Linked DNA regions of Homo sapiens. The protein of the gene in region 1 purifies or fractionates together with the protein of each later gene. This does not show direct contact. Each region holds a gene or a part of one and is shown in the gene's direction. Other genes may lie near its edges.

Region 1 (4,272 bases):
AGTACCCAGCACAGAGCACAGTACACTGTAAGTGCATGGCGTGTATTTCTTGAATGAATGATTTCTTGACATTGAAATTTTTTTTAGCTTACTAGCTTAAGACATTTGGTGAATAGTGCATTTAAAGTATATAATTTTGTGTAGCTTAAAACGATACACAACCAAAAAACTGCAAGAAAACAAAGTGCAATGCTTGGAGAGAGGTTTAGTGAAAAGAATAAGGTGTGTGTTGGGGAGCAGGGACATAGGGTAGGGTTTTTTTTCTTGGATTTGACATTGTTGGGGCAAGTGGAAGAATAATCAACAATGTCTGAATCTTCACATTAACCAGGCATACACAAGCATCCAATGGCTGCTTGAACCTGAGTGTCTTTGCTGTGAATAAAACTGCCTGTGTTCTGAAGTCATGGACTTGAAAGGGACCTTAGTGATCGTCACATCCTATGCTCCACTTTATAGATGAAGAAACTGAGACCAGAAAAACGCAGTGATTCCCTGCTAGTAGGGCTGGGTCTAGAATTCAGGTCTGCTGACTCCCAGACGGTGTGGGAAGGGGCATTCGTTCCTTTAAAAATAAGCACTGCTGCTTTAATAACATCAGCACCTGTTGTTCCAGCTTCTGCAAGAGAGAAGCTATTAATTTCTCCTTCATCAAAGCTGAATTTCTGGTCTGTCTGAACCTTGTTTTCTTCCTGACTGCAGCTGTCTAAACCACTAAGGCCACATGTTGGACGGAGGCACTTTCCTGCTGGAATCCGATAAATCACCACACCCAAATATAGAAAGAAAAAGGGACACAGATCATCCACACCGTGGCCGAATGTGTGACATCTTTGCTGAACTCTCTCCGTTCCACCTTGTGGTGGAGGCCTCCAGTCCACCAAACACAGCCCTAGGCGTGTGAACCCTGCCACAAACATCGGTGCTCTTCCTGCACAGGGCCTGGGACCAACCGTGGCCAGGACATCAGCTGCTGGAAGCCGAGAGAGTTCATCTGAGTGGCGATTTTATGATCTGCAGAGTGGAAAGTAATCATAATCCCTTGAGAAGTTTGCAGAATCGAACCGAATGTTGAATGCCAAAGATCTTCACAAAGCAAGTTGAGTTTCTTCCGTTATTATTGTTATTTGTGTTAGCGAGGCCTGGATTGCTTAGGTTGGGTTTCCTCCCGCGCCTATTCCAGCAGGCAGACCCCGCCCTTGGCCACACCTTTCTCCTTGCCCGGGGTAGGAAAGTGAGGGGCTGCCCGGCGCCCGCGGGCGTCCCTGAGGTCGGGGGTGGGGGGGAGCCGCGCAGCGCGCATGCGCGCCGGGGAGCCGCCGGCCTCTATAAGAGCGCGGCTCAGCGCGGCAGCGAGCGGAGTCGGAGCTGGTCTGGCGCCGGGCGGGGCGAGGCGAGGCTGTGGGCGGCTGCTGCGCTCGGCTTCTCCCGTAGCCCGGAGGAAAGAAACTTCCGTGGGAGGCTTCCATCGGTGCGCACACCTCCCGAGGGCGAGGCAGCGACCGGGAGAGGGAGAGCCGGCCGGAGGCTGCCGGGCTCCTGTGGGACCGCGCTGCAGCCGGGGAGGCGGAGAAGGGGAACCGGGGCGAGCCGCCCGCCTGGATCCGCGCCCAGCAGCAGCCGCGGCCGCCGCCAGCTGGGCAGGCTCCCGGGACTGCGGCTGGGGGCGCGCAGGACCCTCGCCTGCGTCCTGGACGTTCCCGGGGTCAGGAGCGCTCCCTCGGCGACGTGCTGGGAAGATTGGCCGTCGGCCCCGCCGAGTGGAGCGTCGGGGCTGCACCCCCGTGGGCTGCCCGGGCGGCCCGGCCGGAGCCATGCGGACCAAGTTCGGGGCAGAGGAGGCTGAGCGCGGCCGGCTGCGTCACTTGCTGCCCAGAGCCTTGCGTGCACTGCCCGCCTTCGCCCCTTCTACCCGCCCGAGGAGGGAATAAAGGAGGGGAGACGGGCCCTGATTCGCGCGCGGGACCCTGAGGCTTAAACCCTGCGCAGAGCCCTGGCTCCAGGTCCGCGGCGGCGCGCCCAGCGGTCATTCGGCTCGAGTGAGCATCCCTTCGGGGATGCTCAGGGAGGGTCCGGTTGCCAGTGAAACCTCCAGAGGCTTCCGGACGACAGCCCCGGGGGCCTTCTGACTGCATCCCGAGATTTCCATCAGCGAGTGCAACTCATAAGGCAGTCCCTAAGGGGACCGGGCCACCGGCTGAGGACGGGGATGGCTTAGGAGCTCCTGGACCTAGGGCCCGGCGTCGTCGCCTCCTGGGCGTCGCGGCAGAGGGGAGTGGCCCGCGCGGAAAGCGCCGCGGGACAGTCAGTGACGAGGCCCGGGGGTCGCCGGGGCCACGACTTCTCGGAGACCGTCCTGCGCTCTCTGGAGACGCGCTGTCCGCGCCCAGGGTGGTGCCATGTGGGGCGCTCGCCGCTCGTCCGTCTCCTCATCCTGGAACGCCGCTTCGCTCCTGCAGCTGCTGCTGGCTGCGCTGCTGGCGGCGGGGGCGAGGGCCAGCGGCGAGTACTGCCACGGCTGGCTGGACGCGCAGGGCGTCTGGCGCATCGGCTTCCAGTGTCCCGAGCGCTTCGACGGCGGCGACGCCACCATCTGCTGCGGCAGCTGCGCGTTGCGCTACTGCTGCTCCAGCGCCGAGGCGCGCCTGGACCAGGGCGGCTGCGACAATGACCGCCAGCAGGGCGCTGGCGAGCCTGGCCGGGCGGACAAAGACGGCCCCGACGGCTCGGCAGGTAGGGCGGCCTGCGCCCAGCGCGAAAGGGAGGACGGTTGGCGTTGCCTGGACGTCAGGGACCTGGGAGTTTGAAGGGGGGAAATTCAGGAAAGGGCCTAGGACCAGGAGGCGGAGTCTGCCTTCTGGCTTATTATTTGGTCGGTGTGGGTCCCTAATTCACCCTCACGGGCCTCAGTTTCTCCATCTGTCAGCCAAAGGGTGGCTTAGAGTTAATTTTCCGAACAAAATCACACTCCTAAGGCAGTGTGGGCCACAGACAGCCCCCATATTCCTTCTGACCAGGGTCCTCCGGGCCCCTCTGGCGTCTCCTGTCTCCATAGGGCTTCATGTCTTAGGGGTACCCAAGGAGACGGCGAGGGTGCGCCCCCACCCGTGAGGGCCTGGCAGCGGTGCTCCCCTGAAGGCTCCCCGAAAGGAAGGCAGCTCCTCAGGGCTTTCCCGGGGCTGCTGCCCCGTGCCAGACGCCGCGGATTCCCATCTTCTCCACGCGGCGGCCCCTCTCCCCTGCAGCGGCCCGCCTGTGGGGCTTCTGGACTGTTTTCCTTACCACGTCAGACTTAGTAGGTGTAACATCGGAGCAGTGCCCAGCCTTGCTCTTTGTGGCTTTGATTTTTTTTTTCTTTCAAATTGCCAAAGCCAGAGTTGGAAAGTAAACCCGTGAAAGAATTTGGTAGGTTGCACTTCACTCTTCAGAAACCTTCCGGAATGCCTCCCTGGGGTGTCTACACCAGTCACTCCGTGTGTGTGTGTGTGTGTGTGTGTGTGTGTGTGTGTGTTATTTATTTCGGGGGAGGGGAGGTGTAGAGGTAAAATGGCAAACGTGTCCCCGAGGGGGCGGCTCCTCCTCTTTGTGGGCCCGTTGTGTTTACCTGGGAGGCTTTTCGCTAGCATCCTGAGCCTGGGTTCGGGCTGCTTGAGCTTTGGCACAGCGTAGTTTGTGTTTATAGAGCTGCCTCCCAGGACCTCGTGAGAGACAGCTCTTTTCAGTGCCGTTCCCTTTCGCAGTCAAGCATTTTATTAGCATGCTACTCCTATTGTTCTGCTGTCTTGAATCTGAAGAGAGCGTAATTCCAGAACCAGCGCAGTCTTAAAACGCAAGCTCAGTCTCGCAGACTGTGTGGCCATGGAAGAAAGCCCAGAGAAGGGAGCCAGACCCCGAACTGCTACAGTGAGATGTCTGCTAGATTGGGCTCATTAATGGTCTCCAAAAAGTTGGGATGGCTTTGGATTAGTCGGGACTTCTCAGGACGAGACTTCTCATGACGCCCTGTGTTGTGCATGGATGCCTTCTTCATGCTACTTTTAAACGTTTTTTTCCTAAAAATTGTATTTCTTTCACTTTTCTTCTGCAGTGAAGGGCAACATGCCTAATTAAGCCTGCCGGGGGGCTTATAGTAGCGTTACATTCCTTATCCCTGTGTAGTTATTTACATTTCCAATTAAAAATCCTGGAAAGAGAACACTTATTTCTCCCCAAAACTCATTATGTGGACTGAGGCTGGTTTCAGCTAGTTTCTGCTATGATTGGGGTACATTT
Region 2 (3,727 bases), on another chromosome or scaffold:
TGTCACCATACCCAGCTAATTTTTGTGTTTTTAGTAGAAACAGGGTTTCGCCATGTTGGCCAGGCTGGTCTCCAACTCCTGACCTCAGGTGATCCACCCGCCTCGGCCTCCCAAAGTGCTGGGATTACAGGCGTGAGCCACTGTGCCTGGCCTTGATTGACTTTTTTAATACAAGACTATGAGAAACTAAAAATTCTATTTTGGGAGCCTTCCGTCCATTATGATAAAATTTTAAGGTTTTTTCCCCCCATCTCTCATAACAGGATCATAGCTTGTTTTCTCAAAAGTTTATGTAAAAGTGTCTTATTTATGTCTACATTGACTAGGTTGTGTTCATTTTACTTAACATATGAGAGTTTTCTTTCTCTCTTTTCTTCCCTTTGGAGTTATCGTTTGCATCTCCATGAAAAGAGAAGGCAGTGGAGATAATTGACATCAAAGTTAATACTTATGTTTATGTTACAGATTAAATTGTTAAGGCTGTAAATTTTATTATACATTATTTAATATTTTTTGTGGCATATGAAAAGTAATTCTTAGATTTGACTCTTAGAATTCTTTTGATTTGAATTCATATAGCATATTTACTTATTTATTTTTACTCTCACAAATGTATTTTTAGGTTCCAATGATTCTTGTTGGTAATAAGTGTGACTTGGAAGATGAAAGAGTTGTAGGGAAGGAACAAGGTCAAAATCTAGCAAGACAATGGAACAACTGTGCATTCTTAGAATCTTCTGCAAAATCAAAAATAAATGTTAATGAGGTATGGTCAAATATACTTAAAATGGGTCTTCATTTGAAGTACAACATTGAAGATGAATGGAAAATGTCTTAACCCCAAGTTAATATGTACTCAGGGTAATATGTTGATGTTACAGGCAAAAAAAAAAAACCCTCATGTTAAATGTATCTATGTAGTAAATAAACAATACTATTTCAGTCTCTATTAAATACTTGTACATTGATATTTACCATGAAAAAGGAAGACTGGACAGAAAATACATGGATAGGGAAGACAGATTAAGACTTCAGGTATATGAAGGATGTTATATGAAAAATAGAGTAAAATTCCGAAAAGTATGCATGGTTCTTGAAAGGCTCCAAGTCATGTTGTAGAGCAAAAACTTACAGTTTTTAAAAGGATTTTTTCTTTGTGTGATGGTAAATGTTCTAATTGAACTAAGTTAAGATCTCTGCAGCTCCTTCAACTAAGTATTTTAAGGAGCACAATATTAACACTCCCCAAAAATTTGAGCTTGGCAGTTATAACACCTGATTTTATTCTCATTCCTTAGCTGAACAATTCTGGGCATTAATTTATATCCATGGAAATTTCTGTTTTTTCAATTTACTTTTTTCATTGGGGGGGATAGGTGTTCCTCCTGTAAATTAAAACAAATTATTGTATTTGCAGATCTTTTATGACCTAGTGCGGCAAATTAACAGAAAAACTCCAGTGCCTGGGAAGGCTCGCAAAAAGTCATCATGTCAGCTGCTTTAATATACTAAATGCATTGTAGCTCTGAGCCAGGTATGTTCACTTATCTTTCCTCTAACTTTTAATCACTCAACCTTATTAAGGGCACTCTGTCATGAAAGCAAGTATAGACTTCTTTTTGTTGGTTCTGAAAAATAAATGGTTTATTTTTATAAGATATCCATGAGTTAGTATGCTATCTTATTAATTATTTACTTATCATCATGAGTAAAGTATTTCACATAAGTATTCTTTTTTTGAGATGGAGTTTCACTCTGTCACCCAGGCTGGAGTGCAGTGGCGCAATATCAGCTCCCTGCAACCTCCGCCTCCCAGGTTCAAGCAATGCTTCTGCCTCAGCCTCCCGAGTAGCTGGGATTACAGGCACGTGCCACCACGCCCGGCTAGTTTTTTTGTATTTTTAGTAGAGATGGTGTTTCACCATTGTTGGCCAGGATGGTCTCAATCTCTTGACCTCGTGATCTGCCCACCTCGGCCTCCCAAAGTGCTGAGATTACAGGCGTGAGCCACCACTCCCAGCCAACCCCGTCCCTAATTTAAAACACACACACACACACACACACACACACACACACACACACACACACACGTGCGCGCGTGCGCGTGAGCCACCGCTCCCAGCCAACCGTCCCTAATTTAAAACACACACACACACACACACCCCTGACATGTTCATCATGTGCCAGTCACACACACACACACACCCCTGACATGTTCATCATGTGCCACTTTTTTTTTTTTCCTTCAACTTTTAAGTTCCAGGATACATGTGCAGGATGTGCAGGTTTGTTACATAGGTAAAGGTGTACCATGGGGTTTGCTGCACAGATCTTGCATCGGTACCTGGCACATAGTTAACACTCAACTATTAGCTGCTGCTGTTTGCCAATGATAATGGTTTCCTCTTCAGCTGTCATTAAACTGTTTATTGTTAAACTGTTAATTTATTCTTAAGAACCTTTGACATTCCTGACTCTTATTTCTTCCTATGTTAATTGACTCAGTGCTGCCATAGCACTTTGATTCTGCATCTTTTCAGAGTTTTTATTCCTGCCTTCCATCTAGGGCTTTCTGTTTAGTGGTATATCCTCTCATTCTAATATCCTATAATTCCTGACCACATGCCCATTCTTAGCAGCACACATGTGCTTGAGCTCACACACTTCCATCTGTCCTTTTTAATTTGCAACAGTCTGCCAGGATTTAGAAAACTTGATTGCAAACCTCATTCAGACTCAGAATGAGGACCTAAAGTTCTAGGCATTTGTGAAAATTATTTCAACAGCCACATATGTATTAACAACTCTTCTGGAGCTTGTAACAAGTCTGATCACCAGAAAAATATAATAGGGAACATTTTTTTAGCCGAGGCATGTATGCAGAAAACTATTCAAAGTACATATTTAACAATTCTAAGTTTACTTTTTAAAATCTTTAATTACATGTGATTTTAGTGTAATACCACCTTTTTCTGACATCAGTCTTAATAGAATGTTTAAATATGGAATTAGAAATTATATAACGTGATTGTAAATCTGTAAAACACCATCATGAAATAAATTCTATTTGTCTGCTCTGAACGAGCTTTTTAGCCACTTTCATTGAAAGAGTGAGGAAGAACTTGATTATCTGATACTAGAAACCTTGGTTAGATGTGCATTCTATACTTATGATCTAATTCTAGGAGTACATTACGATTGTGTAAACACAGGATCACCCAGTTTGTTAATATTGCTATCTGACTTTTCAATCCTAATTCTAATAAGGTTGACTTGACTAACAATTTTAATGTGATTTTTTTCCTTTTTAATCCTTGGAAGGTAATGCACAAAAATTTGCACAAAGGTACTTTCCCTTTCTGTTCCTAAGATTTTCATTTAACTGACTTTCAAGAGGGCAGCAGAATAGACTTCATCTTTTTGGAATGAAAAGGTCTGCCGTGAATTGTGGTATGTTGCCACTAATGTAATGCCTAGAACAAGAGCCTAGATTATATTCATTTCTAACACTTTTAAGACTGTTTTCTTAACTGTTTGCTTTTGGGTCTTTACTTTTTCTAGCCCATGTTTTTAATTAATTTTTTTCCTTTTGACAGGTCTGAAGAACTGTTGCCCAATTCAACAGTGCCAGCATTCCAACTTTGTTAAACCTACCAACATCTTAAATGGACTTTCCTGTGGTGGTACCCTTTAAGAGGCGGATGAAAGCTACTATATCAGTTTGCAC
Region 3 (2,268 bases), on another chromosome or scaffold:
CATTGGCCACAACCACGTCTCCCTACTTAGGATGGGTGCCCTGAGGGCAGGGCGGGGAGGACTCCGGGCATGTCCCCAGGAATGGATAAACAATGCCCAGAGTGTCTTGTTAAAGAGCCCCTGGTGACTCCCAGCGGCTGGGTTGCAACCTCTGATTAAACCACCCTTTTCTCTTCCAGCAACAACTAAATGACTCCTCTGTCATCATCAGCGCCCTCAAGACCTACCTGGTGTCGGGGTAAGGAGCCCCTCGGAGACCAGGTGGCCATTGCTTTTGGTGGCTTCCTCCAGGGAGGCCTCCCCTGAGTTCCCTCCTGGGAGCACGTGGAGCTGCTGCTTAGATTTCCAGAGTACAGAGTGGCTCGCACCTGTAATCCCAGCACTTTGGGAGGCCGAGGCAGGCAGATCACCTGAGGTCAGGAGTTCCAGACCAGCCTGGCCAACATGGCGAAGCTCCATCTCTACTAAAAATACAAAAATTAGCCAGGCATAGTGGCGAGTGCCTGTAGTCCCAGCTACTCAGGAGGCTGAGGCAGGAGAATCGCTTGAACCCGGGAGGCAGAGGGTTGCGGTGAGCCAAGATCGTGCCACTGCACTCCAGCCTGGGTGACAGAGCGAGACTCCGTCTCAAAAAAAAAAAAAAATGATTTTCCAGAGTAGCCCGTGGCCGTCCTCCTCCAAGCCCCCTACTTTGTCCTCCCCACACCTCCCTCTCTTGGGGAGGTAGCCCTGGCATCTACTCCAAATCCCTCTTACTGCAAGAGTCCGGAGAGCCTTTGTTGGTCCTGGCTCCACTCTGAGGCTGGGGCAGCGGGGTTGGTCGGCCACAGGGGACGGAGGGGGAAGGAGTTGGGGTGATATTGTGGCTCTCTCCGAAGGCAGCCCCTGGAAGAGATCATCACCTACTACCCAGCCATGAAGGCTGTGAACGAGCAGGGCAAGGAGGTGACCGAGTTCGGCAATAAGTACTGGCTCATGCTCAACGAGAAGGAGGCCCAGCAAGTGTATGGTGGGAAGGAGGCCAGGACGTGAGTGGGGCTGGGGCTGGCGGGGGAAGGTGGTGACCGCAGGGGTCTTCTGTAGAGTAGGACCAAGCTGAGCAAGATGGCGTGAGCAGGGAGCAGCATGGGAGACCAGCGGGGCTGGGGCCGGGCCATGCCGGATTTCAGTAGAGACCTTCCTGCAGCCGGGCGTGGTGGCTCACTCCTGTAATCCCAGCCTGTTGGGAGGCCGAGGCAGGCAGATCACCTGAGGTCAGGAGTTCAAGACCAGCCTGGCCAACATGGCAAAACCCCATCTCTATAAAAATGCAAAAATTAGCTAGGTGTGGAGGCACACACCTATAATCCCAGCTACTAAGGAGGCTGAAGCAGGAGAATCGCTTGAACCCAGGAGGCGGAGGATGCAGTGAGCTGAGATGGTGCCATTGCACTCCAGCCTGGGTGACAGAGCGAGACTTTGTCTCAAAAAAAAAAAAAAGACCTTCCTGCTCAGGCTTCAGCTTCCCGCCCGTGCAGTGGGTATGTTCTAGAGAATGCAGCCTGCTCCCAACACAGCCCGGGTCCTGGCTTAGGAAGTCCCTCCCGTGCCCGCAGGGAGGAGATGAAGTGGCGGCAGTGGGCGGACGACTGGCTGGTGCACCTGATCTCCCCCAATGTGTACCGCACGCCCACCGAGGCTCTGGCGTCCTTTGACTACATTGTCCGCGAGGGCAAGTTCGGAGCCGTGGAGGGTGCCGTGGCCAAGTACATGGGTGCAGCGGCCATGTACCTCATCAGCAAGCGACTCAAGAGCAGGCAAGTGTGTGTGCACATCCGGGGCCTGCTGTCCCCGAGCCTCCGGTGCCACGAGCAGTGGTGATCCCATCACACCCCTCAGGAGACCAGCGGGAGGCCGAGGCCTAGGGCAGGTGGGAAACGCATTATGGATTATGGGTCCCTTGGCCAAGATGGGACTTGGACCCAGAGCTCCTGCTCACCTCCCCTGGGGACAGCAGGGCTGGCCTTGAAGCCGGAAGCCTGGGCCCTGACTGGCGCCTCCTCTGTGGCTTTCTCCCTGGCCTGGTCTCTTGCCTTTACCACAGCCTCCCCGTCTGGGACGGATGCTCCCTGAGGCGTCTGCAGATGTGATGCTCTCACCTGGGGTGCCGTCCTGGCTTCCACACCTCCCCCCTCTCCCCAGAGGAGACCCTCTTCCCTGCTGGGCTGGGAGTGGGGGCTCCCCTGAGGGGCTTTTCCCTTCCCCGCCCAGGCACCGCCTCCAGGACAA

The links.
Region 2: the proteins of SHISA2 (region 1) and RAP1B purify together in Homo sapiens (affinity purification with mass spectrometry; one large-scale study listed by BioGRID and IntAct). This does not show direct contact.
Region 3: the proteins of SHISA2 (region 1) and PTGES2 purify together in Homo sapiens (affinity purification with mass spectrometry; 3 studies listed by BioGRID and IntAct, with this or other methods). This does not show direct contact.

The regions. Positions count from the first base shown.
Region 1 is NC_000013.11:26,049,103-26,053,374, reverse strand, and holds the start of SHISA2 (protein shisa-2 homolog precursor), read left to right. Parts: upstream 1-1,358; 5' UTR 1,359-2,399; coding exon 2,400-2,733; intron 2,734-4,272. UniProt on the Homo sapiens protein: Plays an essential role in the maturation of presomitic mesoderm cells by individual attenuation of both FGF and WNT signaling.
Region 2 is NC_000012.12:68,655,684-68,659,410, forward strand, and holds part of RAP1B (ras-related protein Rap-1b isoform 1 precursor), read left to right. Parts: intron 1-622; coding exon 623-766; intron 767-1,417; coding exon 1,418-1,504; 3' UTR 1,505-1,534; intron 1,535-3,596; 3' UTR 3,597-3,727. UniProt on the Homo sapiens protein: GTP-binding protein that possesses intrinsic GTPase activity. Contributes to the polarizing activity of KRIT1 and CDH5 in the establishment and maintenance of correct endothelial cell polarity and vascular lumen.
Region 3 is NC_000009.12:128,122,462-128,124,729, reverse strand, and holds part of PTGES2 (prostaglandin E synthase 2), read left to right. Parts: intron 1-179; coding exon 180-238; intron 239-878; coding exon 879-1,028; intron 1,029-1,595; coding exon 1,596-1,796; intron 1,797-2,083; coding exon of another isoform or gene 2,084-2,129; exon of another isoform or gene 2,130-2,244; intron 2,245-2,250; coding exon 2,251-2,268. UniProt on the Homo sapiens protein: Isomerase that catalyzes the conversion of PGH2 into the more stable prostaglandin E2 (PGE2) (in vitro). The biological function and the GSH-dependent property of PTGES2 is still under debate.